4 separate regions of the Homo sapiens genome follow, and all the other regions are linked to region 4. Evidence: fine-mapped expression QTL. A gene starts in region 4. Each other region holds a variant in brackets. All regions are shown on one strand. Distances are between the middles of the regions.

Evidence for each region. PIP is the estimated chance that this variant, and not a neighbour inherited with it, causes the effect. A credible set is the group of variants that fine-mapping cannot tell apart.
Region 1: its variant is the best candidate, but not a certain one, in a credible set for the expression of WLS in transverse colon (CEDAR, PIP 0.55).
Region 2: its variant is the best candidate, but not a certain one, in a credible set for the expression of WLS in blood mononuclear cells (TOPMed, PIP 0.71).
Region 3: its variant is the best candidate, but not a certain one, in a credible set for the expression of WLS in sigmoid colon (GTEx, PIP 0.85).

What each region holds. Positions count from the first base shown.
Region 1 is chr1:68,196,607-68,200,606 of GRCh38, forward strand. All of the region lies in intron 1 of WLS (Wnt ligand secretion mediator), which reads right to left. All of the region lies in intron 9 of GNG12-AS1 (GNG12, DIRAS3 and WLS antisense RNA 1), which reads left to right. Among named protein-coding and RNA genes, the nearest start is that of MIR1262, 15 kb to the left of the region's middle. RefSeq lists an enhancer at 3,038-3,539. The variant A/G (reference allele first, on the strand shown) is at 1,558.
Region 2 is chr1:68,346,203-68,354,866 of GRCh38, forward strand. No RefSeq gene overlaps it. Among named protein-coding and RNA genes, the nearest start is that of RPE65, 99 kb to the right of the region's middle. The variant C/T (reference allele first, on the strand shown) is at 3,742.
Region 3 is chr1:68,251,207-68,259,870 of GRCh38, forward strand. No RefSeq gene overlaps it. Among named protein-coding and RNA genes, the nearest start is that of WLS, 23 kb to the left of the region's middle. The variant G/A (reference allele first, on the strand shown) is at 3,869.
Region 4 is chr1:68,230,925-68,238,681 of GRCh38, forward strand. It overlaps WLS (Wnt ligand secretion mediator), which reads right to left and starts at 1,599. Exons shown (of 12, transcript NM_024911.7): 1 at 1,270-1,599. The coding sequence starts at 1,375.

The DNA of each region.
Region 1 (4,000 bases), 36 kb before region 4:
TTAATGATACATTTTTAGTAAAATGTTATGTTTGTAAGAAGTTAGGACAATGCCTATTAATACTTACCAGAAAACTCAACACTACTAAGCTCTAGCTGAACATCCTTCATGTAGAAGGCTGAACACTGCAATACAAGTTGCCACTAACCCCTGCTACAGACGTTTTTCTTTAAAACTCAAAACTGTATCACGAAGACCTCACATCTAATCCATCTAAAATCAGACATCTGACTTATTCTTAGAAATATGAGTCAATCAAACTTTGGTTATCCTGACTCAGCTAAATAGCCCACTGACATTAGAAAAGCCAAATGGCACATTTAACTGAACCCTTTTTAATGTGGTTGGAGAAATAAACAGTGAGACAAAAGTCATGAATTCTATTTTCGGCTAACATACTCAAACTGACTATTTGCTGCAGAAAATAGTTACTACATTTTAAAACTTCTATTCTTCCAAAATGAACCTAACCTTTTTTTCTTTATTTTTTACCTTCTTGAAAAACAAGTCTCTCACTTCTCAGGCCAAAACGAAAAATAACTAGCTGAGTTCCTCAGCTAAGCTCCAAAACCACATTCCAAACTTAATAACAGAGAAGCTGAACACTTTATGGTCACAAAGTCCGCATTTTTAATGAATGCAGTGAACGCCTGCCTTTTTAGGGGCCTGCATTATTTTCATCCTCTCATTAGTCTAGTGTTTCTTCTATAAAGAAAAAAAATCCCAGAAATACTAATATTTTCATAAATATCATGGCAGTGAACTTGGAGAAGCCTCAAGTGCATCTCAAGCTATACTGTGAGAATCACAATTTTTTTCACTTGAATAAATTAGTCCTTGAGTCTCAAAAATGCTTTCCATAACTTCAAAACCTGAAGATAATTCAACATTTTCCGTTTTTCTAATAGTGTTCAAAAGAGAAAACACAAGTATTGCTTGAGAAAGTAAACAGACATCCTGATATTCAAACATGGACAGTTAATGTTCCCCCAATAATATATTTACAGCTCAGTGCAATGTCCTACTCCAGCTAAAAGTGAATTCCCAAGTGTTTCTTTATATAGACAGCATTATCACGTAAACCAAAAGCAAAGCTTACAGCTGGTAGCTGGTCACCTACCATAGAATGTGTTTTCATTAGCTATAGTCAAAATTTTAGCTACATGGGTCACAAATTGTGTCTAGAATCAAAAAAAGTTTGATCTGTCTGTAAATTTTTTTAAAGTGTGTGGGATTAAGAGAAAAGAGCTAAATGGAGGAAGTTTAAATCATCTTCAACCTTTGAACAAGCCACAATAACAGGTATTTGTAATGAAGGCCTTACTTAGTCACTTGCGTGGTTCTAGGGATTAATAGAGTTTGTGTATTCAAGAGGGGGCTGGATAGATTCAGGTCAACAAACTGAGTCATGTTTGCTCAGGTGAAAGCTAAAAATAACCACTCCCCAGTATTCCTAGGAGAGTAATGCAATATTACCCAGCTGCCTCAGCACACATTATAAATGTCTCCTCCACCCACCCATAGTATAAGGTTTAACTGAAAACAAGTAGGCCAAAA[A/G]CTACTTCTACACCAGACCAATTCAATGACAGAATAATTTGGCCAAAACTAAATATGCCTAGTCACTGTAAACTGGTTAACTCATGGTTGGTTAAGATAGCCTTGGGAATATGCACAGAAGTTATAAAACCATGAGCTATTCATTGAAAATGCAGTCCATTATGAATTCAGTTCTTTTTACTTTATCAAACATGACCATTTTATTTTGTCTGTATTTCAATACAGTATTTTTGGCCTCCACTTTTCCACTACAGCACATGAATTGTGAAATGTGATTCTATATAACATTTAATGTTAAAGTGATATGAAATCAATAAGACTTCTAACAAATTCAAGGTGTGAAGAAATGTACAAACACAACCTGAAGTCTCTATGAAAATTCAGTGGTCCCTCAGTTACACACATTACTATGGCTCACAGTATATTGTCCAAATTTGTCTTGAGTATCTACCATGCACTAGACACTGCCGGTTCTGGAGTAAACCTGATAGGCACCAACCATATGGAACGTACAAATAACGGAGGAAGCAGACAATAAATAAACAATTTCAGGAAAAAATAATTTTGATGAATGTTATATGTAACCTGACATTCCCTGAGAAAGGGCAACAGTCAGATATTTGGGAGGTGGGAGAAATGAATACACCAGAATGACAGAAAAATCCAGTCATCGTTACAACATAACCTTGAATAAAAATGTAAGTGAACAATGACTAAACCTGTAGTACTTCTTTTGGAAGAATATTCATTGACTCCAGTCAGCTTCCTGTTATTTCACTTCAAATGGCTATCCAGTTTACAAATTACTATCTAGCCAACCGCTAGCATTTATCATGCTTAAAATTGAGTCAACATTAAATCATTAGCCCCTATTCCTTCCAGAACCTGTAATTTAAGAGTTAGAGAGAGACAAGACTTGGTTGCCTCTTAGAAAAGTTAAAATAAAACTAAAACAACAGGCTGACATGACACATTGTCTCCATTTAAGCCAACATAGACTATTTATTTCTTTGCTTTATTATGAGTAATGAACATTTCTTTAGCAATCACCTAGGAGCATTACTATTATGCAGGTACCGTACTAACTAAAGACAGAGACGAATGGCCTCCCAGACCCCCATTTGCTCACAGGCTAGTGTGGGAGGCTGAGAAGTTCACAAAGAATTACACCCTGATTGGAAATTTCTTTGACAGAGGTTTGCACAGGATGCTCCAGTTGTAAAAAGAGCTGAGGGTAGCTTTCGGCAGGGCTTAGCCTTGGAAGAGAGCAGGTAATAGCCAAGGGAGAATGGGGGATGGCCAAGGAGGGAAGGTGCTGAGGTAGAGATAGAACATGTGCTGGGTCATAGAATATCTAAAACAATCATATTTTCTGCAGATATCTGTGCTTGAATATTAAAAATTAAAAAGAGATCATTTAACGGTGAAAACTGTAGTACTACTCTTATCTCTGTGTCCACCCTTGCCTTTTCTAATCAGTGGTATAATTCTACTAGAGTGCCTTGGCCTCTGCTCCCAATCATCCCTGCTGTACTCTATAGAGCACCATAAAGAAGGAATAATAAACAGAGCCACACATAACAAAGAACTTTTATTTGGCAGGAATGTTTCCTTTTATGACACCTATCTCTGCCCTGTAAGTAGCCACAAGGCCAGACCAGAGATCTGCTGGAAGGAGGCGGAGTGAGAGGGTAGTCAGGTGGGAATGAAGAAGCTCCCCGTCCTATTCCCACAAATGGCCCCAAAGAGCCTTTGAAGTCTCAGTCATCAGGTAATAATAGCCTTCCTCTAAATTAGAGGAAGAATGTCTGCCTTGCAACAAAGATGATATTTAAAGAATAATCTGCTTTGGGGTACAAGGGGAAGGAATGCAGAGAATAGACCAGTTGAAAAGGTAATTCCTGTTTATAAGAATTAATAATCAGAACAGCACCATTTTAAAAAGTAATGACTTAAAGTAAAAATGGTCAAAGATTTCAGAAATGTTTTAGAGAATTTTATGTTTACAATAGAATTTATCTAACAAAAATGATAGGAACAATACACATTGATTTAAAAACATACAAAAAGTTGGTAGCAGATACTTTCTCCTACTGACTTGAGACATTGATTTAACACCTGAAAACTAATCTCAGTTAAAAAGCTGCCAGCACCATCTCTCCACCTGTAAAAATGTGAATATTTATTTATATTTTATAATTTCATTTTATTTATTCTCTATCTTGTTCCATAAAACATTTTGGGGTACTAGAACTGGTTATTAGCCTTTATTTTTTAAAAATAATTGGGACTGATTTCAACGGATAGAATTAATGTTGGGGCGGGGGTGGGCAGAGACTACAAATTACTTGGTCTATGTCTATATCTTCAAAAGTTTGGGGAGCTTATATTCTCCAGCTATTGCTTTTTTTTTTTTTTTCCAGCTATTGCTTTTGAAACAACA
Region 2 (8,664 bases), 120 kb after region 4:
ACTCTCCTTTTCCCTCACTCTTGCTTCCTGGGATTGCATCCTATAATAAAGTAGTAGCACGTAAACTTTGTCTCAGGCACTGCTTTCTGGAGAATCCAGATTAAGACAGTTGTTCAATGATTGTTGAAAGGTATGGGAAAATCAAAGATACTTGTTTTGTGTTTTTATTTTGAGGCTTAGCACCCCCTAGTGGAATTTATTTTTCACTTTCATTCATACCGAGAGCCCCCAAAAGGTTTCTTGTGTACCATTAAGTCTTCTCAGGCAGAAATAGGTCTGGCTAAAACACCAGGAGATAAAGAAGGCTGCATATAGATGCCAGAGTCATTACATATCTCTATTAATACCTGGAGGAGTCCGTAACACAATGAAAAAACTAAGACTAACTCAATCCACATCATGTAATGTGAATGAAATATAAGTAAAAAAAAAAAATCAATTCTGATTGTTTTATAGCAATTCATCTGTTGGACTTTCCAGAGAACCTTCATGAGAAAACAGATTTTCTTGAATGTGTCTGATGTTGCTTTTGCCCCATGCAGTCTGTGTTTTTGTGTCAAGCAGGTTGTTACTGGTAGCCCATAGTCTTGACCTCTGCCAGTGCTCGGAGCTCATTTCAAGTACCCCATCTTTATCAATGAGGATTTCATCTTCTTAAATGTCCACCACATTGAGCCTGTTGTTAATCTCAGAAATTGTGTTCAGCTGTAAGAGATAATTTTATGTTGTTTTTGCTGCCCAATATCCATTTATCCTTTTTGTGGCAATGGTAGCTGATTCTTTGTTGGGATATGTAATCCTCCTCCACTTTCATCCATAAACTTTTTTTTTTCTTTTTCTTTTTTTTTTTTTTTTTTTTTTTTTTTTTTTTTTTTTAGACAGGGTCTCGCTCTGTCACCCAGGCTGGAGTGCAATGGTGTGGTCTCGGCTCACTGCAACCTCCTGCTCTCGGGCTCAAGCACTTCTCCTGCCTCAGCCTCCCGAGTAACTGGGATTACAGGTGCCTGCCACTGCGCCCGGCTAATTTTTGTATATATATATTTTTAGTAGAGACGGGATTTCACCATGTTGGCCAGGCTGGTCTCGAACTCCTGACCTCGTGATCCGCCTGCCTTAACCTCCCAAAGTGCTGGGATTACAGGTGTGAGCCACTGCGCCCAGCCCTCATCCATAAACTTCTTTTTGAAAATGCCTTAAGTTCAGGGTCCGGGGTATAATTAGCATATTTCATCACCACAGTGAATAGTTCAGGATTGAGCATATACCCAAATTGAGACTATAAATGCTGAGGATATTTGGTTTTGCATTTTTTTGTTTGACATTTTGAGAAGAGACTTTCCTCTTTCACTGAACTAGTTCTTGTGATGATGTGAGCCTGCTGCCACCGGAAGCCACCTTGCAAAGTCTGAGAATGCAACCAACATAGAGGAAGTAGAACTGAGAAGTGAAGCCAGCTGGACTTCCTGGGCCAAGTGGGGACTTGGAGAACTTTTAAAAAAATTATTATTATTATACTTTAAGTTCTAGAGTACATGTGCACAATGTGCAGATTTGTTACATATGTATACATGTGCCATGTTGGTGTGCTGCACCTATTAACTCGTCATTTACATTAGGTATATCTCCTAATGCTATCCCTTCCCCCTCCCCCCACCCCACAACAGGCCCCGGTGTGTGATGTTCCCCACCCTGTGTCCAAGTGTTCTCATTGTTCAATTCCCACCTATGAGTGAGAACATGCGGTGTTTAGTTTTGTCCTTGTGATAGTTTGCTCAGAATGATGATTTCCAGCTACATCCATGTCCCTACAAAGGACATGAACTCATCCTTTTTTATGGCTGCATAGTATTCCATGGTGTATATGTGCTACATTTTGTTAATCCAGTGTATCATTGATGGACATTTGGGTTGGTAACTTGGAGAACATTCCTGTCTTACAAGAGGATTGTAAAACGCACCAATCAGCACTCTGTAGCTAGAATTGTAAAATGCACCAATCAGCACTCTGTAGCTCGCAAGGGGATTGTAAAATGCATCAATCAGCGCTCTGTAAAAACATACCAAACAGTGTTCTGTAGCTAGCAAGAGGATTGTAAAATGCACCAATCCGTGCTCTGTAGCTAGCAAGAGGATTGTAAAATGCAACAATCAGCACTCTGTAAAATGCACCAATCAACACTCTGTAAAATGCACCGATCAGCAAGATCCTAAAAGTAGCCAAATGCAGGGAGTATTGAAAAAAGGGCACTCTGATAGGACAGAAATGGAACATGGGCGGGGCCAATAAGGGAATAAAAGCTGGTCACCCCAGCCAGCAGCAACAACCTGTTCGGGTCCCCTTCCATGCTGTAGAAGCTTTGTTCTTTCGCTCTTCACAATAAATCTTGCTGCTGCTCACTCTTTGGGTCTGTGTCATCTTTAAGAGCTGTAACACTCACCGTGAAGGTCCGCAACTTCATTCTTGAAGTCAGTGAGACCATGAACCCACCAACAGGAACCAACTCTGGACACAGAACTAAGGAATGGCTCCTGGAGGCATCATTTTATTCCAGAATGAGGCCACTGCTGAAGTCAGCCCTTTTTGTATATTTTACAATTACATTAGCCAATAACTTCCCTTCTTTGTTTAAGCTAGATTGAGTTGGGCTTTTTAATCACTTTCAACTAAAAGATTCCTAACTGGTAAACTGTTCAATTCTGAACTTATAGCCTTGTTCCAACTTGATTCTCTCTTGGTATTTATTATTTTAGTGATTGCAATTATCATCCATCCAGTTGTGCCAACTAGAAATTTAGGAGTTATCTTGACACCTTAATTTTTCAGTTTCCATATCTAATTCACCACTGAATTTTGGATATTTTGTCATTTAATCATATTTTGAAATGATCTAATTTTTATTCCATATCCACACTCTAGTTCAAGATAGCCACATCTCTCACTTGAACTGCTACTACTACTAAAATAATATTACACCTAACCTTCTCTGAGCTCCTCATCCATTCTCCCATCTGTTTTCCATTCTTCATCCAGAGGGATTTTTTTCAAAGTACAAATCTGACCATATAATGTCCCTTTATTCCAGTCCTCCTATTAAAACCCCAAAGTTACTCTTAGAATAATGAAAACTCCTAAGAAAGTTTGACTCTCACCCATCTCCTTCATCTCAGTGACACTAAAGTCTACACTCTAAAGTCACTGAGGGCCACTGCATAAGTTGATTCTTCTGCCCGGAATGATCTTTCTTCCCCTTTTCAGATCTCAACTTTGGGCCATTTTTTTGATTAAACCTCGTCTGGCCTCCATGATTAAGTCAAATAACAGTATTCCAGAATTCATATCACTGTGTGCTTGGTTTGGGATCTATCACAAACTAGGGGTGATATCTGTTTCTTGACTACATTTTTATTCTTTTAACATGAATGAGATAGTTAAGACAGAAACCAGTCAAAAGAATTCACAAAGCATTTTTTCAACTACGAAAAGCAATGTCCAAATGATAATTTATCTGCATTGCTGTCTGTCTGAAAGAGGTCTTGATTCCCAGAGTGGGTGTTGATGGGACAAACGTGGTTGAATGGTAGGAATGCGAAAGAGGCAGGAGGACGTGAATGTGAAAATCGATTGACGTAGAACAGATGAACCAGGCATTCTATTATTTTCTATAACTTGCTGAATGGGAATAGGTTGTGACTGATCTTATTATTAACCCTGGCTTGGAGAAAAATCCTTATAATTTCACT[C/T]TAATGTCAAAGTTTGAAGCCTATACAGCCATCCCAGGATAAACTGAACAGATCCTGTGGCAGCTATTGGTGTATGCTGCTGTTATTTTCCTTGAAGTGGGAACACTCTGCAAAGAGAAGAGTCAGTTGACAGCCTCTAGATGCTGCAGGTTTGGGGTCCATTGAAGTGAGCGTGATGAGGCTATATGGTCTCTGGGCTGCTCTCAGACAGTAACTGAGCATGGCAGGGGTACTAGAGCTTAGCCATTCTTGTCCAAAATGGGATTCCTCTAATGGGATAACTTTGCTCTGGGGTGCCTTGTTGACCTGGTCAAGACTCTCAGATCTGCATCACAGTCTGGAGCTTTGCCTTACCACTTTTCTTCCCTTCCTCTTTCTTTTCATAGGTCGCAGATGAGCATCATGGTCTGAAGCCCCTTCCCTCCTACTCCTGTTCCTTTTCCTTTATTATTCATAGTCATTTACCCCAATTCATCATTTGCAGATCTAATTCTGCCTTGGTATCTGCTTCCAGGAGGATCTGAACTGACACACACATTCACTTGGGAGCTACTTATGGAAGAAAAGGATGTGGAATGTTTTCCTCTCTCCTTTCACTGTATCTGGAGGGAGGAAAGTAGATTTGGTGTTAGGGAAGCAGGTTTCTTTTGGCTACCTGTATGTTGGTGATGGCTAGTTTGCTGCACATTCCAAAGCTGATCATCACCATCCATCAATTTCATCAATATCTCCTGATGTGGGGGACCTATAGATTTGGATGGTGATGAACATGGCCCTGAGCCACTGTCTAGGCATCTGCGGTTTCTGTGAAGTTTTACGATGCATCTTCCATCTGAAGCCATCTTACTTACAACTCCCATGCATGTGCCTCTGATGCATGCGGTCGATTTGGCACAAGCCTTCCCTTCCATCCCTACCCATCTTTTGATGTCCCTATTGTGATCCAATTGTTTATACCTCTCAGGAGACATGGTGTGTATGTGGCGAGAGTAGCTTTGCGGCTAAGCCTTGCCCTCTTCTGCCAATACCCATCCCTTCCTTCCAAAATGCTTTTCCCTAAGTTTTGTTAGGAAACCCTGAGACTAAGCAGACCAGAAGCTGGTAAGCAAGATGCCAGTCTCCTGTTCCTGTGGTGCCACTGTACCACTGTAGTATGGCTGTCTAATGGATTCCCCCAAACCAGGAGTCAGGGTTCATGCAACATGCTCTTCACATCCAGGAACTTGAATCTGACCCCAAAAGATCTCTTCCTGTTCTTTAGCTCATCTTAATTTTACCTTTCTCCTAGCAAGAGAATGGAGGTAGGGAAGACGAACTGTTCTTAGTTTACTCTGATTTTTTCCTTTGGTCCCACTCTGGCAAGTTCTTCATTGAACTTGATCTAGGACATTTTGGAGTAGGGGGGTAGTGAGGAAAGCAAATTAACATTTTCAGTGGCTGTCACTGGTCAAACACATACCTTGCAAATCTGTCTAGTTGCCCACCTTGTTAAGTTACAAGGCTTTAGTAAGATAACATATGTAGAGTGTTTAGAAGAGTGCCTGGACACAGTAAACAATCAGTAATATTAGCTATTATTTTACATTGATGAAAAATTTAGCCAAAGCCAGAAACAAATTTTATTATGTAAAAATCTTATATATTTCCTAATTCTCCCAGCAAAAGTGAGAATTTATCAAGTACTTATTCTGTTCAAAATGGCAAAAGAAAGTAATATATTGTATTTATAATTTTTAAAATGATGGGATTCTAACTTACTGGAGAATCCACAGGCACAGAATTAAAAGGGAAGGGTCCTTTGGTAAACTTCCTTCAACGCCATCTGCTTTCTAATGCTATGCTTTCTTCTTGAATTTCTCCTCAGTCTGTGCTTTGGGGCATCTCTAGTTCAGGAGTAAATGACTTTCACTATGTGAAAATAATGACATTTTCATCCCACGTAGTGCCCCTGGACAGAGTCATTTCACTCTGTCTGTATGATCTGCATCACCATGTGGATGTTGTATGAATTGGGCGGCTGTGGCTTCACTGGGTCAGATTTCCCAGACCTTTACACTATCACTATGTTCGAATACTATAGCACATTTTCTCTCAATTATTATAACAGTGTGTTTTAAAATGAGTGATTATTAAAATATTATTTTAGAACAGTTCCTGTTCTCGAATGCTGCCAGCATTTGTACTCCTAGGTAATCTTTTACAGCAGGGGTTAGCAAACTGCAGCCTACCACCTATTTTCGTAAGTAAAGTTTTGTTGGGACATAGCTATGATTATTTATTTTTTCTTTGTCTGTGGCTGCTTTTGCACTATAATGGCAGAGTTCAGTAGTTGCAATACAGATCATAGGGCCTATAAGTCTAAAACCTTTACTATCTGATCCTTTATGGAAAAGGCTTGCTGACTTCTGTTCTGTAGCGTGATTATTTCTGCAGAGGAATGTCCACACCCAGAAGATACAGGGTGGGGTTCTCTGACTTTTTTTAGAGGCAGATATTTGGCCACTTCTGAAGAGGAGGGAAGGGGATTTATTAGTTTTCTAGCTTACTCCAGCTGGGTTATATCAGCAGGGAGAAAGAACAAAAATCGGTGCTGTTGAACACAAGTGACTTACTGTTCCCTGTCCATGGCCCTGTTTCAAGTTCATCCTTAGGCTTGTGGCCTTTAGGACTCAGCTCCCTTTTTTTGGAGTTATATTAATATGGCACTATCAGTTTGAAAGGGAAGGAGAGAAGGATGGTCAGATTTTCCCTTTCATCAATATTTTGCCTAAAGTTGGCAGCCTTTCCTCTCAGCTTTGGGACTCAAAGATTATCCATGCTCTTTTAATATTAATATTCTGCCTAGCAGGGGGCAGCTTTTGAAGTGTACCTACATTTTGCAGTTGATATAGTTCATGTTTCCTTCAGATTTTTTTTTAAACCAATTGATTGAGAATGGCAGACTTTCTCACTGTCTCCTTCATGTGTCTTAACCTCTATTTCATATTTTCCTTTTGTCTATCTGGCAGTGCTTTGCTAATTCTTTTTTTTTAAATCTCCATTTTCCAGTTCACTAAATCTCTCCACTGCTGAGTCTAATTTCCTGTTTTTTAATTGTGATTTTTTCAATTTCTAGAATCTCTATTTGGCTCAGTTTTATATCTAGCTGGCGGATTCTAATAGTCTATTATGCTAGTGTCTTATTTTTCACTACTCTTCAATTTAAAAAAATATACTAGACATACACATCTATTATTTTGGGTCTGATTATTCCCAAATCTAGTCTCTGCAGTCATATTCTGATGTTTGTTCTGACTGCCAACTCTCACTTATTGTAGTTTGTTTCCTTCTCTGATAATTTATTTTATTGTGGTCTTGGAACTTTGTCTCTGAGAATTCTTTAAGCCCGTGCTTGAAGTGACTTTCTCTAGAGTATATTTGATATTTTAAGCCCCATTTCTTGGAATACTGCCAAGTAGGAATCAGTCAAATTACATTTGAGTTGGGGTTTTCAATTAAAAGGGCAGTTTGGATTTTGACCCTCACATTATGAGAATGTAGGTTTGTGTGAAGAATTTTCAGGGGAGCCATTTATTTTTATTTTTTATTTATGTTTTCTTTTTTCACACAAAGCTGAGAAACGAGTGTCTCTATGCCTGTGTCTATAGAGAGAGGTTGTTTCCAGTTTACCATTGGGGCTATGACCCTTTTGTGGTCCTGACACTGAGCTGACTTCCCACTCTGCATTGATTTTGGCCTTTGTCTCCTGTTTGTTGTCAGTGGCCCCTTAATAACCCAAATTTCAGGCCACCAGGGACCAAGAATCAGCAAGTACCTTCAAGGAAAAGATTGGCTTTGGTACTAACTTATATTTGTGTATCCTTGGACTCCCCTGAATAATTATATCCCTTCCCAACAGCTCAGTCATACATAAAACATTTTGTTACTTTAAAAAACTTTTCATAAGCATTTTTTGGTGTGTTAAACCAGAAGGGGTTTCACTTAATGTTTATATAGGCATATCAAGAAAGAAAAAAAGGAATTTAAAAAAAGAAAAAAAAATCACTGTTTCTTCCAGTTTTAACGAAGAAAAAAAAAGACATATGTAGTCATATTATCAGAAATGTCCCTTCATCTAAAAACTCATTTTGTCTACTCTTCTGTATATGTCTCTCACCCTTCTTTCTCCACAACATCTCTTGCATCTTTTCTTTATTCCTTTTTTCCATTCTCATTCTTATTCAAGTCCTCTACACCTTAGACGTGTACTATTGCAAGGGCCTCCAGTGCAAATCCTTCTCTTCCCTGTGGCCCATCTTCTAGTTCTTCCTGTACCTGATAGCCACATCTAGCTTCCTGTAAATTTACTTAGACAAATGAAATGCAAACAGTCAGCAATGGCATATTTGTATTGGTATTTTAGAAAATGTCTAAAAGAAAAATGATCAGCAATACAGGGAAGAGAAATTGTATCATTAGAGAAAATAAGTAAATGAATATATATTTTTATATGTCATATATATTTTACACATATGACAATGAGATACATATATCAGACATATATATTTATATGTCATATATATGCTATATATATATATATATATATATATATATATATATATATAACAATTAGATAAGTACTGTTCCAAAGCAGGTCCATGATGCTGTGTCTGGAATCAGAGAGAAAGGAGAGATCAAAGCTGCTTAGATAGAGAGTGAGATTCTGCATGGCTTTACAGAGAAGTTGGTCCCTTAGTCTTGAAGTAGCAGTTATGCAGTTGGAAATAGGTCAAGAAAAGGTATTCGTGGAGTAGAAACACTGTACAAAGACACCATTTCTTATAGTTTGTTTGGAGACAAGAAAGTACTGGAGTAAGGCTACATCTCAGAATTTAGAATGGTAGAAGATGTACTTGCAATTTGGATATCTGTCCCGCAGCAATT
Region 3 (8,664 bases), 21 kb after region 4:
TTTTTTAATGGTGTTTTTCAGGAACAGGCATCAAGATTGCAAGTTTATTGAGCTTACAATCAATAAACATGTGATTTCTTCCATTTGATTTAAAAGGGTCTTTTAGAAATTTTTCTTGGCCATATTTTATCTTTTCTTTTTTGAGACAAGGTCTCACTCTGTCACCCAGGCTGGAGTGAAGTGGCACAATCATAGCTCTCTGCAGTCACAATCTCCTGGGCTCAGGTGATTACCTTGCCTAAGCCTACCCTGTAGCTAGGAATTCAGGTATGAGCCACCACTCCCAGCTAACTTAAAAAATATATATATATTATTTTTTTTGAGGTGGGGTCTGGCTGTGTTGCCCAGGCTGGTCTCGAAATTCTGACCTCAAGTGATACTCCTGCCTCAGCCTCCCAAAGTGCTGGAATTACAGTCATGAGATGCTGCACCCAGCCTATATTTTATTATTTTTAAGGAAGAGATATTGTACTACTTTTATTACTTTTATACCCAAACACAGAAAATTCCAGTGCTATTATAAAAAGTATTAAATTTTTTTTATTTTCTAGTTGTGTAGTACATATAAATAAAATTGATTTTCTATATCAACCTTCTATCCACTGACCTTACAAAATAAATGTATTCTTATAATTTGTTTGTAGATTTTTTCAATTTTTTTACATAAACAATCATGTCATATATGAACAATAATAATTTTACTTCTGTTTCCAAACTTTATAGCTTTCATTTTGTTTGCTTGCTTTATTGTATTGGTGAATTTCTCTAGTACAATCTAGAATTGAAATCACCATTATTATTTGATATTTATTTTGGAGATGCTAGCCATTGCAACTGAAGAAGAGAATAAAAAGAGAAACAAGAAGGAAACAAACTTAGAATTATGTGTGATTGATACAATTATAAATCTAAAAATTCAAATAAAAATAATTCAAGCAATAATAAAGCTAATCACAATAATTAAAAGTCAATTACTTGGCTGGATGTGGTGCCTCATGCCTGTAATCCCAGCACTTTGGGAGACTGAGGCAGGTGGATCATGTGAGGTCAGGAGTTTGAGACCAGCCAGGCCAACATGGTGAAACCCCACCTCTACTAAAACTACAAAAAATTAGCCGGGCGTGGTGGTGCGCACCTGTAGTCCTGGTTACTTGGGGGACTGAGACAGGAGAATTGCTTGAACCTGGGAGGTGGAGGTTGCAGTGAGCCAAGATTGCGCCACTGCACTCCAGCCTGGGCGACTGAGTGAGACTCCATCTCAAAAAAAAAAAAAAAAAAAAAGTCCAGTACTTTACTTTAGAATAATGATTATCTGCTAGAAAGTAGAATGGAGAAGAATATCTCATTCACAATAACTATTCTAGGAATGAATCTAATAAGAAAGCATGAAAATTTAAAATTTCACTGAGTCAAAATTTTTAAAAATGAGTTAAATGAAAAGACATCTTTTGTTTGGATAGATGAATCTATCTATCTATCTATCTATCTATCTATCTATCTATCTATCATCTATCTATCTATCTATCTATCTATCTATCTATATCTATCATCTATCTATCTATATCTGTCTATCTACCTACCTACCTATCTATTTTTTAGTGGGATTAAGTGGTTTATTCAAAGTTATCTGATTAGTAACATTTTTCTAAAGTTTATGTTCCTATGTTACTTCTCTGCATACAATTTTTTTTTTTACTTTAAGTTCTGGGGTACACGTGCAAAATGTGCAGTTTTGTTACATAGGTATACACGTGCTATGGTGGTTTGCTGCACCTATCAACCCGTCATCTACGTTAGGCATTTCTTCTAATGCTATCCCTCCCCTAGCCCCCCACCCCCCAACAGGCCCAGATGTCTGGATGTGTGGTGTTCCCTTCCCTTGTGTCCATGTGTTCTCCTTGTTCAACTCCCACTTATGAGTGAGAACATGCGGTGTTTGATTTTCTGTTCTTGTGATAATTTGCTGAGAATGATGGTTTCCATCTGATGAATCAATATTTTGAAAGAGTTATTTTTGAATTAATCTAAACTATAAAGCAATTCCTATCAAAAATATAAACAAAGTTTTTTGAAGATTTTTGAAATTTGAATGAAATGATGCTAAAATTTATATGACAAAATAAACACGTAGGAAAATATTTGAAAAGAGAAGAATCATGAGGTGGGTTGAGTACATCAGATAAAGTGTTGCTTTAAAGTATCTGAACTTTCTTTCTGACCACAAATAAACAAAAAAGATCAATGAGATAGATGAACAAATCCATAAATAATCTGGAGTAATTATCTGAGTTTAATAATAAAATGATAAAAGTCACATTTTTAATAAATGAGAAAAATATAAATTATTAAATAAATAATGTTGGTAATACTGATTGAACATTTGAAAAACATAAACCTGGATTTTACCCTTCCTTCTTCTCTATTAAGATGTGAATAAAAGAAATCCCAAAATAATAAGCAAGAACATGAATAATACTAATCCAAACATAAACTTGGTATAGGAAATGCCTTTCTAAACTTATTTCAAAGTCCTCAAGCCAAAAGAAAAAGATTAATATCTACATTTTAATCTTAACATTTTCAATTTCTATCAATTTTAACACTCTGCCGTGAAAAAAGGTCAAATAGAAGACAAGCACATATTGGGAAAAAATATTTGCAACAAATACGACAAGGCACCTTAATATAAAAAAAATTCTTCCAAATAAGTAAATAAAAGGTAAGGCTGAGCATGGTGGCTCAAACCTGTAATCCCAGCACTTTGAGAGGCTGAGGCTGGAGCATTCCTTGAGGCCAGGAGTTTGAAACCAGCCTGGTCAACATAGCCAGACCCTATGGCCTCTACAAAAGAAAAATTCAAAAATTAACTGGGAGTGGTGGCATGTACCTGTAGTCTGAGGTACTGGGGAGGCTGAAGCAGGAGGACCGTTTGAGCTTCGAAGTCTGAAGCTACAGTGAGCCATGATTGCACCATTGCACTCTATCTGGGTGGCAGAGTGAAACCCTGTCTCCAAAACAAAAACAGAAACAAAGATATATAACCCAATAGAAAAAAAGTGGGCAAAGGAGTTTATGGAAAAAATATGAGTGCGCAATTCACACCTGAAAAGATACTTAACCATATAATATTTTAAAATACATAAACTGAAGAACAAAGTGTATTTTTTTATCCAATTAAGAATATTAAAAGGTTATGTAAGCCCAAAGCTGAAGGGAACTATGCAGGTCTATATATTGTTGATAGAATAAATTATTACAAACCTTTTGTAGGAAATTTATCAACATCTATCCAAATTATTGCTGAGCATACTCTTTGACCCCCAAATTGAAATTTATCTTACCCATATGCCTGCAAAAGTGTTCAAAGATATGTCTACAGGAATTTCATCATTTTGCTGTAGCATTGCTTTGCTTTTTAAGATAGTGTTATGGGCTGAGCAGTCTTTTCCTAAAATTTGTATGTGAAAACCCTCACTCTCCGCACCTGAAAATGTGACTGTATGTGGAAATAAAGCTTTTAAAGAGGTTGTTAAATTAAGATGAGACTGTTAGTGTGGGTCCTTATCCAATCCAACTGGTGTCCTTGTAAAGAAGAGGAGATTAAGACACTGGAGGCACACCAAGGATGTGAGCAAACAGAGAAAATCAATGTGAGGGCTTAGAAATAAGGCAGCCAACTGCAAGCCAAGGAGAGAGGTCTCAGAAGAAACTCAACCTGCTGACATCTTGACCTTGGACTATTAGCCTCCAGAACTGTGAGAAAATAAATTTCTGCTGTTTAAGCCACCCAGACTGAGGTATTTTGTTATGGCAGCCTGAGCAAATTAATATAAACACTGAAAGTGAAATATTCTCAATGGCTATAAAT[G/A]GAAGAAAATGTTACCAGAGGTTACGTCCGTGGTTACAGAGAAGGAAAAGATAGAAGGTAGGGAAATTTGATGTTTTAATTTATGCTTTCTTATTTTGTTTATTTTAAAATTTTGAACCTTATTGCTGCTGTAATAAAATAAACCAGCTAATTTTAAAAAGTGATAGAGAATTTGCGTCAACTTATAAAGTCCCAGAAATATGCCCAGAAATCTCCTTTGAGACCTACAAAGCTTCTATTGATTTATTTATCTTTGATTTGTCATTTTTTATGATGTAGGTTTAAAAATAAATTATTTATTTAAACTCTTTTGTTTGGTTCAGTTGCTGGTGATTCAGCAATTTTCTATTGTTCTTCTTTCATAATCTTTGGGTTTATTTCATCTTCCTTCCAAAACTTAAGAAACCATGATTTCGTCACTCAAGGATCACATTGGGACATCGGAAAAGTCCTCCAGGTGAAGTTGAGTTATTTATTTCTGAAGAAGACATCAACCAACCTACTGTAATATGAAACAAGTAATAACCATTCGGTTGTAATAGCTCTCTATTTTAATTACACTTTAGGCCAGAAGAGTTAGGGAAAAATATATAGTAGACAGCACTGTTATTGGGCAATGTTCCACTTTAAACACAAATCCACAGCCGTACTTCAAATCTTCTTAGATACATGATTCTCAGATAGTTAAGGGAATAGAAAAATAGTGGAGTCACTAATTACTTGGCCTTAGATGTTAGTATAACTCTAATGCCAACTCTTCCCCCCTTTATTTTAGGAGACTATTGTTGAAGTCAAAGTAACTATCTCATTTTGTTTAAAAATGTGAAAGTGTGAGTTATGTAATAAAGAGACAATGGGAAGTTTGATTAACACAGCTGCAAACTGTTAAGATATTCTTTAAGAAGAGAACACTTATGGAGTAGGAGTGGATGAGATGCAAGAACTGAATGACAGAAAATGTCCTTAAGCCTTGGCATCCTCACACCTTTTCATGCTTGGCTTGCATTGGGTCTACAGGCTTCACTGATGTTATAATCCAATTGAATAAGCATTTCTCTTATGGGTTTCCTATGGATCCGGAGCTTCTGTTAGGTTCTGTGAGGGTAACAAAAGAAGTGTATGACATATATGCCTTGAAGGACATTAGGAGACATGTAGCAACAGTAGCTTTTGGCGGCCTTAAGCAGAGGGAACGCCATCCTTACTGAAGCCCTTGGTCTCAGGAGTAGGAATTACAGAGTAAAAGGACAAGAGAGGAAGGATCACAAGGGCTTGATGGAGATTTTCATCTCAAATATAAAATCCAAAAGGTTCTGAAAACCAAACTATCTTGGGGTTATTTATAATTTGTATTTATCCCACTGAATGCAGAGATATTCATATGTTTTACTGAAGAAATGTTAGTATATTAATTTGAGTATTTTATAGCAACACTTCACCTACCTTCTCCCTCATGGGAAGAAATATATTTCCCTAACGTTGTAAGGGAGGAAACCACCTCTCATATTGTCTTATGCCCAATTTCTGCCTCCAAAGAAAGAAAAAGTAAAAACTAAAGGCAGAAATGAAATCTGCAAGCAGACAGCCTGGTGCCACACCCTGGGCCTGGTAGTTATAAATTGACCCCTGACCTAATTGGTTACGTTATCTATAGATTACAGACATTGTACAGAAAAGCACTGTGAAAATCCCTATCCTGTTTTGTTCCAATCTAATTACCGGTGCATGCAGCCCCCAGTCACATACCCCCTGCTTGCTCAATCAATCATGACCCTCTCACGCACACCCCCTTAGAGTTGTGAGCCCTTAAAAGGGACAGGAATTGCTCGCTTGGGGAGCTCAGCTCTTGAGACAGGAGTCTTGCTGATGCCCCTGGCCGAATAAACCCCTTCTTTCTTTAACTCGGTGTCTGAGGAGTTTTGCCTGCGGCTGGTCCTGCTACAGCTGGACTTAGTCATATGACTGGCTTTGGCCAATGGAATGTGAGGGGAGCTGATGAGAGCAGAGGCATTAAATGTGCTGATGAGATTTGAGTTTTTTGGGTCTTTGGCCTTCCCATTATTCACCATGAGAAGGCCTGCCCCAGGGAATCAGTGATCCTGAAAGAATGAGAAGAAATACAGAACAGCATCCCCACAGAGCTATGAAATAAGAAAAACATGGTTGCTTTTGTAAGCCATCGAGTTTTGGAGTGTTTTGTTATGATGAATTATTGAGGTAATAGCTAGCTGATACAATGCTTTAGATTTTAAAATGCTACCTCAGACTCTGCTGGGGATGTTACATAATATACAGTATGTACACCACATCTCCTTTGTAAACATGCTGTCTAAAATTTTTGGTACTTTTTATTGAGGTATCGTAGTTATACATATCTTGGGGTACATGTGATATTTTGATACACATATGTAATGTGTAATTATCAATCAGGGCAAACGGGGTGTCCACCACCTCAAATATTTATCTTCTCTTTTTATTTGAAACATTACAATTCTTCCCATCTACCTATTTTGAAATATACAATACTGATTATTAACTATAATTTCCCTACTGTATATCAAATACCATAACCTATTCCTTCTACCTAACAGTATTTTGGTGCTTATTAACCAACTTCTCTTCATCTCCACTGGTTTCCTTACAGGCCCTTGGTCAGCACCATTCTACTCTCAACCTCCTTGAAATCCATTATTTTAGCTCCTGTATATGAGTGAGAATATGTGATATTTGTGTGTATGTGCCTGGCTTATTTCATTTAACATGATGACCTCCAGCCATGTTGTTGCAAATAGGACTCTTCTTTTTTATGGCTAATATTCCATTGTGTATATGTAACATTTTCTATATCCACTCATTCAATAATGGACACTTAGGTTGATTCCATATCTTGGCTATTGTGAATAGTGCTGAAATACACATGGGAATGCAGATATCTGTGCAATATACTGGTTTCCTTTCTTTTGGATATATACCTCGCCTTGGGATTGCTGGACAATATGATAGTTTTATTCTTAATTCTTTGACAAACCTTCATACCATTTTCCATAATGGCTGTGCTACTTTACATTCCCAACAATAGTGTACAGCTGTTCTCTTTTGTGGAATCCTCATAAAGATTTGTTATTTTTTGTCTTTTTAATAATAGCCATTTTAACTGGGATGATATTATATCTCATTGTGTTTTTGATTTGCATTTTCTCTGATGATTAGTGATGTTGAGCATTTTTTCATATACCCATTGGTAATTTGTATGCTTTCTTTTGAGAAAAGTCTATTTAGGTCTTTTGAAATGTCTATTTAGGTCACTTTTAAATTGGATTATTTGATTATTTGTTTTTTTGCTATTGAGTTGTTTGAGTCCCTTATATATTCTTGTTAATTCCTTGTTGGATGGGTAGTATGCAAGTATTTTCTCCCATTCTGTAGGTTTCTCCTCACTTTGTCAATTGTTTCCTTTGCTGTGCAGAGCATTTTGGCTTGATGTAATCCCATTTGTCTATTTTTGCTTTTGTTACCTATGCTTTTGAGGTCTTACCCAAAATATCTTTGTACAGATCAATGTTCTATATTGTTTCCCCAATGTTTTCTTCTAGTACTTTTGTAGTTTCAGGTCTTACATTTATGTTTTTAGTCTATTTTGTGTTGATTTTTGTATATGGTAGAAGATGGGAATCTAATTTTATTCTTCTGTATATGGATGTCTAGTTCTCTGCACACCATTTATTAAAGAGACTATCTTTTCCTGAATGTATGTCCTTGGTGCCTTTGTTGAAAATGAGTTAACTGTAAGTGTGGATTTATTTCTGGATTCTCTATTCTGTTATATTGGTCTATGTGTCTGTTTTAATGCCAATTCTATGCTGCTTTGGTTACTATAGCTTTATAGCACAATTAGAAATTAGATAGTGCGACGCCTCCAACTTTGTTTATTTTGCTCAGGATTGCTTTAGCTATTGGGGATCTTTTGTTATTTCCATATGAATTTTAGGATTGTTTTTCTATATCTGTGAAGAATTGTTGCTGGTATTTTGATAGGGATGGCACTGAATCTGTAGATTGCTTTGGGCAGTATGGATATTTTATTTTATTTTATTTTATTTATTTTTTTGAGACAGAGTCTCGCTCTGTCGCCCAGGCTGGAGTGCAGTGGCACAATCTCTGCTCACTGCAACCTCCACCTCCCAGGTTCAAGCAATTCTCCTGCCTCAGCCTCCCAAGTAGCTGGGATTTCAGGCACCCACCACCACACCCAGCTAATTTTGTGTATTTTTAGTAGAGACAGGGTTTCGCCATGTTGGCCAGGCTGGTCTCGAACTCCTGACCTCAGGTGATCCACCCGCCTCGGCCTCCCAAAGTGCTGGGATTACAGGCGTAAGCCACCATGCCAGGCCTGGATATTTTAATAATATTACACCTTCTAATCCATGAACATGCGGTATCTTTCCATTTTTCTGTGTGGTCTCTTCCATTTCTTTCATCGGTGTTTTATAGTTTTTCTATTAAAGATATTTTACTTCTTTGGTTAAATTTATTCCTATGGGGTTTTGTTGTAGTATTGTAAATAAGATTACTTTCTTGATTTTTTTTCAGATTGATTACTGTTAATGTATAGAAATGCTGCTTATTTTTGTATATTGATTTTGTATCTTGCAACTGTACTAAATTTATCTGTTCTAACAGCTTTTTGATGGAGTATTTATATTTTTTTCCAAATAAAAGTTTATATCATCTGCAAACAAGGATAATTTGACTTCTTCCTTTCCAATAAAAAGCCTTTATTTTTCCATAAAAAGCCT
Region 4 (7,757 bases):
GCGACGCCGCCGGCGCCCCCGGGCGTTTTCCCCGCACCCCACATCGCGTGGGCGCCCGTAAAGGCACGCGCGGAGAAAGCCCCTCCGTGGACTCCCCACTCCGCAAAGTTTAACAAAGCCGTGAAGTAAGGAAACCGAACCTCCCGTCCGCGCCCGCTGCAAAGTTGGCATTGAAGTTTGTGCCGGGATGTCCCAAATCTTGAGGGGGCGGGGGGCGCGAGTGTGCAGAGAGGCGGGAGGATGGATGCAGATGGGGAGACAGTGAGGGGAAGGGAGTTTTTCCGAGTGGACGGTCCGTGAGGCGGTTTTCTTCACCCGGAAGCCTGTTTGACTCAGAGAGGTCCGGGAGGTGCACGCCAGGGGAGGTCTCCCGGGGCGGGCGCTGTCGCCGAGGAGGCCGGCGAGCTGTCACCTGCGGGGGGCTGTGGTGGGAGCTGAGGGCGCTCTCCTAAGCGCCAAAAGAGGACGGGGACATTCACAGTCACCGGCTCTCGGGGCTCTAAGTAGTGGGGGAAGGGATATTCACGAGTGGGCAGGAGGCCAAAAGCAACACCTTTCGGATACGCTTTTCCCCTCCGACCTCTCCAACTTCCCGCGGCGCTGGTCAAGGACTCCCTCCCACCCCACCCCATCCCACCCAACCTCCCGGCCGACAATTCGGACCTGTCCACGGCAGAGCGTGGGGTGGAGTGCGGCGGGAAAGCAGAGGGCGCGAAGGTCGGGACCCCAAATTGCAAACCCTCAGCCCCTAGCAAAGACGACCAAATGCATTTACAACCGTGCAAGTATCTCAGCCTTGTAACAGAGCTCCGGGTTTGCGCCGGGCACAGTTCCCCGACTCTTCTGTTGTTCCTAATAAAGTCGATTACGTTGCCCTCCCGGAGCTGATTGGAAGGGAACCGAGAGGAAAAGGGGGGGAACGCGGGAAAAAGCGGGGGGGGGGGGGGGCGAGCAATCAACTTTGTAACCCAGCGCTTCCTCGCGCGATCCGTCGCCATGCTTAAGATTCCCACCCCCGCCGCCCCCCTCTTGCCTTTCAAGTGGATACTGAAACTAGGCCAAAACTTTTTCCCCTCCTTTTCTCTTAGCCACTAGACTGGATTGTGCCCCACGGAGCCCCATGGAGCTCTGCTTTCTTAAGCACAATAGCCGGACTAATTAGATCATAGAAGCAAGGCAGTGATACTGTAACAAGTAGCCCAAGAGGCAAAGAGGGAAGGGGCCCGAAAAGACAGAAAGGGGGAAAAGTTTGCAGCTCTCCGCACTTACCAATCAAGCCTCCCACCAGAAAGGCGATGATTTGGAACACGAGCAGAATCCCACCAACAATGCACAGCTTCTTGGTGCTCATGTTTTCTATAATTGCCCCAGCCATTTTTGCGCCCCCCCTTTTTCTTTTCTCCTTGAAATAAATGTTTTAGGGTGAGCTTTTTGCTCCCTCCTCTCACACACTCCCTCCTTCCTCGCCTCCTTTCTGGGCGCTGCAAAACTTCAGAGGTGCTGGAGCGCGGCGAGGATGGGACCGGGACGGAAGGCGCCCGCACGGATTCCCCCGGCGCAGCCGGCTCGGGTTCCCCCAATGCCCGGAGCTGTGATTGTGGCCGCTCCGCCGCCTGTGGACGCTTAAAGGAGCAGGGAAGCGGATCACATGACGCCGCCTCCCTCCCTTTCTTCCTCCCTCCCTCTCGCGCTTCCTCCCTCCCTCCCTCCCTCTCTTCCTCTACCCCTTGCCCACCAGTTCGGGGCTCAGAGCTCTGGCGGGTGCTGGCGCCTGGCTCCCGAGTCTGGCCTGCAACCTGTCTCTCCAAGGTCTGATGCCATTTAGGGGTTGCTGTTGATGTTAAGCGGGTTCCCCCTGCCCAGCTTCTCACAGGTTTCCTTTTCTGGTTTCCGAAGTGCGAGATTTAAATCACCGGTGGACCGCCTTGCAGACCTTTAACTTACGCGTTGACTTTAGGAAATGGTCCCCACCCCACCCCCAACTGCTAGAACTCTCTTTAGGAAAGAGGAGGAGAATTTTTTTTAAAAGGACCCAATAGATGCCTAAGTCAAAACACAGAGATGCGGAATAAAGTCTCAGCTCGACTTCTTTCTACCAGATTCCCAGCCTCGGTTATTGGGCACATACCCAGCTAAATTCCCCACGGCGCCCCTTGAGGAAACTTGCTCTCCAGCCAAATCAGACCACTGTTCGTTACTCCAGCACATGTGCTTCCACAGCCTTAACCCTGGTTATTGCCTTAAAGAGAACATGTTCTACTCCATCAATGTTAAACCTGATCCAAAACCAACTAGTGTTAAAAAATCTTTCTAATTTTCCACACCACCTCCATGCAGTATCTCTGGGAACTGAGCCCCTACAATCCTGTATTTACATTTTTACCTCCTATTGTAAGGATTTGTGTACACGTTTGTCTCCACCACTGAGCTGTAAACTCCTGGGGAATAGGGACCAAGTTTTTTTTGTTCTTTGTACCCCCCATGGTGCCTAACAAAATGCTAGCTCTAGTAGGTGCCCCATAATCTTTTGTGGAATGAATAAGTGAATGTGAAAGCAAGCCCACAGTTTGTATTTCAAAGGTCTAAAGAGATCTTAGTTGGTTTAGAGGGTACCTATATTAAGTTACAATGTTTGTTGTCTCTTTGTGAGAAATCATATATTTATATTTATACTTAACTTCCATAAAAAGAGGGGCGGGGCTCCCGATAGAGATTTCCTGCTCTATCAAGCCTAAATTTCTGGGCCTGGTTTTTCCATGTTTCATAAACTGGCCGCTTGGCCAGTACAACTCACCTTACTCAATAGACCCTTGGTTTGGTAAATACCCCACCCTGCTCCCCAAACGTGCAGTTTCTACCACCACCACCCACACATCTTGTTTCTTGTCCCTCCCATCCTTACACACCCTCTTCATGCCAAGAGACTATTTTTCCCAGTCCTCTCTCCTCCTCTACTCTGTTCCTGAATTTTCATTGCCCTTATAAAAGATGTCATGCAGGTTACACTTAATAGAAGCATTCATTTCTAATCTCCAAATAGAACAGAGACTTGTCAAGGACAAGCACCAAACTTTATGCATACAAAACTCCATCTCTTCAACATCTAATAGTTCTTAACAGTTCTGAGGATATACACATCATTATGTGTCACATAAGGATGTTTCAGTCAACAACAGACCGTGTGTGTGACAGTAGTCCTATAAGGTTATAATACCATATTCTTACAACACCTTTTCTATAGATATGTTTAGATACACAGAGTGCTTACTATTGCATTACAGTTGTCTACAGTGTTCAGTACAGTAACATGCCAGACAGGTTTGTAGTCTAGGAGCAATCAGCTACACGGTGTAGCCTAGGTCTGTAGTAGGCTATGCTACCTAGGTTTATGTAAGTGCCCTCTATGACATTTGCACAATGACAAATCACCTAACAACACATTCTCAGAAGGTATTCCCATCATTAAGCAATGCATGACTGTGGTTGCTGTTTATCTATTCTCTCATTCAACTCTTTATCCAAGTCACTTATTGAGCCTTTAACATGTTCCAGGCTTTCTTTCTTAAGCACTCAAGGATACCAAGATGTCAAAGTACTTGCACCTGCCCCAGAGGAACCCCCCCCCAGTCCAAATGTTATTCACTGAATAGTAATTAATTACCTCTACTTTGGCAAACACCAGGTACTATCAGAAAGGATGAAGTAGACAGAATTGTTGTCCTTCCAATGTCCTTCAGTTCAAAGTACTCAGATACCTTGGGGTATCATGTTCTGAGCCCAGCACTCCTAAGGGCCCATTTATCTTTCCTAAAAGTCATTTGTTTTCTCATAAATACACTTCTTCTCCTATTAAGATAGAATATAAGCTCCAAATTCTATTAACAACTGCCTCCTTGAGTGGTTATGAATGCCCACATACATTTGATATATGTGAACAAAAATTTGTCTTTTGCCTTGCTAATCTGTCTTTTGTCAGTTTAGTCCACAGACCCCCAAGCACTATGCATAAGAGGGTAGAGAAAAAATGGTGGGTTTTTTGTTTATTTATTTGTTTGTTTGTTTTTGAGACAGAGTCTCATTCTGTCGCCCAGTCTGCAGTGCAGTGACACGATCTTGGCTCACTGCAACCTCTGCCTCCTGAGCTCAAGCAATTCTCCTGCCTCAGCCTCCTGTGTAGCTGGGATTACAGGTGCCCACCACCACATCTAGCTAATTTTTGTATTTTTAGTAGAAATGGGGTTTCGCCATGTTGGCTAGGCTGGTCTTGAACTCCTGACCTCAGGTGATCCACCCACCTCTGCTCCCAAAGTGCTGGGATTACAGGTGTGAGCTACCACGCCTGGCCCCCGTCCACTTCAAATATAAACTGGATCCATAAAAAATGTCTGGAGTGGTAGAAGTGATTTATTCAGATTAGTGAACTCCTTGACTTAGTTTTTAATGAGCTGCTACAATACACCCCACCCCCTCTGCTCTGAAATGCATCTCTGCAGAGTAACTAGCCTAACTCCTTAGGTTTCAGTTTTCTCATCTGTAAATGAGTTGCTGGTTCTCCACCAAGATGATCCCCTGCTTTAAAAGAGCACTTATTAAATAGTTATTTTAATTAAAAAGGGATATTTCTAATTGCTAATCAGTACTTCTGTCATGAGATTACCAATAATGCCCAACTTGGTGGGATGTAGACACCTGTAGTATTCATCACCATGGGCTGCTTTAAAAAAATTGAATTTCTATCACATCTTTTTAAACATTAAAAGTGACTGTGAATCTTTATTTCCCAAGCGGACAACACAGGTGAATAGAAAAGAACATGACAGTTAGAGTCAGCTGGATCTGGTTTGGAACCCAGATCCCATCTGCCCCTTGTTTCATGTGATTATAGGCCATTATGCAGTTACTTACCACCTCTGAGGCTTCACAGACCAACTCTGAGGCTTCTGTAAAACCTTCACTCTTTACAGAAGAGTTTTCCCTTCCGTAAAATGGGAATAATAGTACTATTTCATGGTATTCTTGTAAGATATGAATATTTATTATTATATTTAGGAAACTAAGGGAAATCAATAATTTTGTGTTTAAAAACTAGTAAAACTAGTAAAACTGATGACTGATTATTGCTCAGCTCTAAAATTTTTATCATATTGTGATTACTGTTTGAAGCATATGTTAGGAGAAGTCTAGGTGGTTAACTTTACTTGACAAGTGTGTTAATAAGGACAACATCTAGAATTGAACTTTGACAATACTCAGTGGTTTTTAACATAGAAACATCTGTTCTAAAAACTTCCAGCTGCCAAGGAAATGTTTGTTTTGAGTCATTGTCATTAGGTAGATTATCCCAGAGACTGAAATGATCCAAGGGCAAATCCAACTCTGTCAATAAAAACTGATCATTTCAACTCCATTCCACTAGACTTTATATTAGGTATTCTGATTTATTCATCATTTTATTCAAAGTGTTTGGGATATGCCGGGCATGGTGGCTCACGCCTGTAATCCCAGCACTTTGGGAGGCTGAGGTGGGCGGATTACCTGAGGTCAGGAGTTCGAGACCAGCCTGACCAACATGGAGAAACCCTGTCTCTACTAAAAATACAAATTAGCCGGGCGTGGTGAGGCATGCCTGTAATCGGGAGGCTGAGGCGGGAGAATCACTTGAACCTGGGAGGCGGAGGTTGCAGTGAGCTGAGATCACGCCATTGCACTCCAGCCTGGGCAACAATGGCAAAATTCCATCTCAAAAAAAAAAAAAGTGTTTGGGATATGGAAGGTCATAGTGATGTTCCATGCGTATGTATTGAATAGATGAATGAATGCATGAATTCATGAATGAATGAATGGATAAATGGATATCTAACTGAAGGTAGATATAACTCCTCCCTCACCCCCAGTTCCTATATATAATTGACTGACTATATTCCTACCTGGCACCTATACACTAGACTGCATTTTGCACATGTATCTATATATGTGATGTGTTGTTACCCTAACTGGCTTGCAAATTCCTTCAACACAAGGAGAGTGTGATCTGAGCCTTTGTGTGCCTCACAGTCCCAGCACAGCACCTTGCACAGAGGAGGGCTTAGATTCTGAAGTTGAGAAAGCCTCCTTTGGAAGCCAAGAGCAGCACATTATTATTGGCATTGCAGTAAATGTAATGTAGAGTTCTAAAAAGATTGAATACATCTCCTGAAACATCTAATTTACTTCCCAGAGGAAACTAACAAGAGGAATAATCCCACTCTGAGTCTTCTCATTCTCATAAATAGCTTTTATCCATAAATGGCATCCCTATGGCTCCATGGTTGTTGGTATTTTCTGGTAATTGGTACCTGTGAATGTGAGCGAGCACTGTGGGTTCACACTCTATTATTCAGTGTCACTTTTCACCACACACACACACACACATACACACACACATATAGACACACACACACACAACTTCTTTTAAAATGCTCTTTTTCCCCCAAACAAAACCACCCCTCCCTTCTTTTTCTGCGGACCCCATTGTCTTATTTTGTATGGAGATACAAGACCTTTCTTAATGCCTCCTTTTACACAATAACTGTGGGTAGGAACTATTCAGAAAACCAATACTTCAACCTGATCTTCAATTGCTTAATAAATACCCCATGTCCCACTCCCGTTTTGCATCTCCACCTCCTCTGTAGATCTTCATTTCACCTTTTCTTTTACATTCCACAGACATTTCAGTCATTAGGCTTATTCAGTCACAGCTTTATGTCTTGCTAGCTGTGTAAATAAATGTGGGGAAATTACTTTTCTCATTTCTTGCAAAGAATAAATAATACCAGTCTTATGGGTTGTGATCATTAAACAAAATAAAAAATGCCTAGCACAGTGCCTGACACAAAGTGAATACTCAACAAATATGGCATGTTATAGGGGAGGAGGATTCTGTTCCCAGAGAGCAAAACAAAACAAAACAAAACAAACCATAAAACCCCTAATTATAGTCTCTCTTATAAAATTGCCTCTTTGAACCCAGGCAACCTGGAAGGGCAGGTAAGAAACTTTACAGGTTTCCAGAGGCCTCTAGTGGGAGGCAATCAACAGTTTGAAGTAGCCAGCCAGCCCCCTGTTTCTCAGGCTTGAAAGAAGCTGCAGCAGAGAGCTGGGAAGCCTCCAGTGTTTAAGCCTTTGAGATCACCTGTGCTGGGTTCCTCCACCAGAGGTGGGGAAAAGGGCTTTTTCTTTTTGCCAGTTTTCATGGTATAAGCCAAATAGGGGCTGAGCTGACTGCTCCTTCATGTCATGATGGCTCTTCTTCCCCGTCTCCCCATGAACTTTCTCATGCTGACAAGTTCCTCGATATCTGCTTCTCTCCGCGCAGAGTGGCAATAGGTGGAAAACCCGGGAAGGCCCAGAAACACCTGCCCCGGACAGTGATTCCTGTGATATGCAGACAACACCCAGTACCGTGGCAGACTTGGCACACAAATTTTTGTAATGAATAATGATGAATGAGCCGGGCGCGGTGGCTCACGCCTGTAATCCTAGCACTTTGGGAGGCCGAGGCGGGCGGATCACGAGGTCAGGAGATCGAGACCATCTTGGCTAACACGGTGAAACCCTGTCTCTACTAAATATACAAAAAATTAGCCGTGCTTGGTGGCAGGCGCCTGTAGTCCCAGCTACTCGGGAGGCTGAGGCAGGAGAATGGTGTGAATCCGGGAGGCGGAGCTTGCAGTTAGCTGAGATCGTGCCACTGCACTCCAGCCTGGGAGACAGAG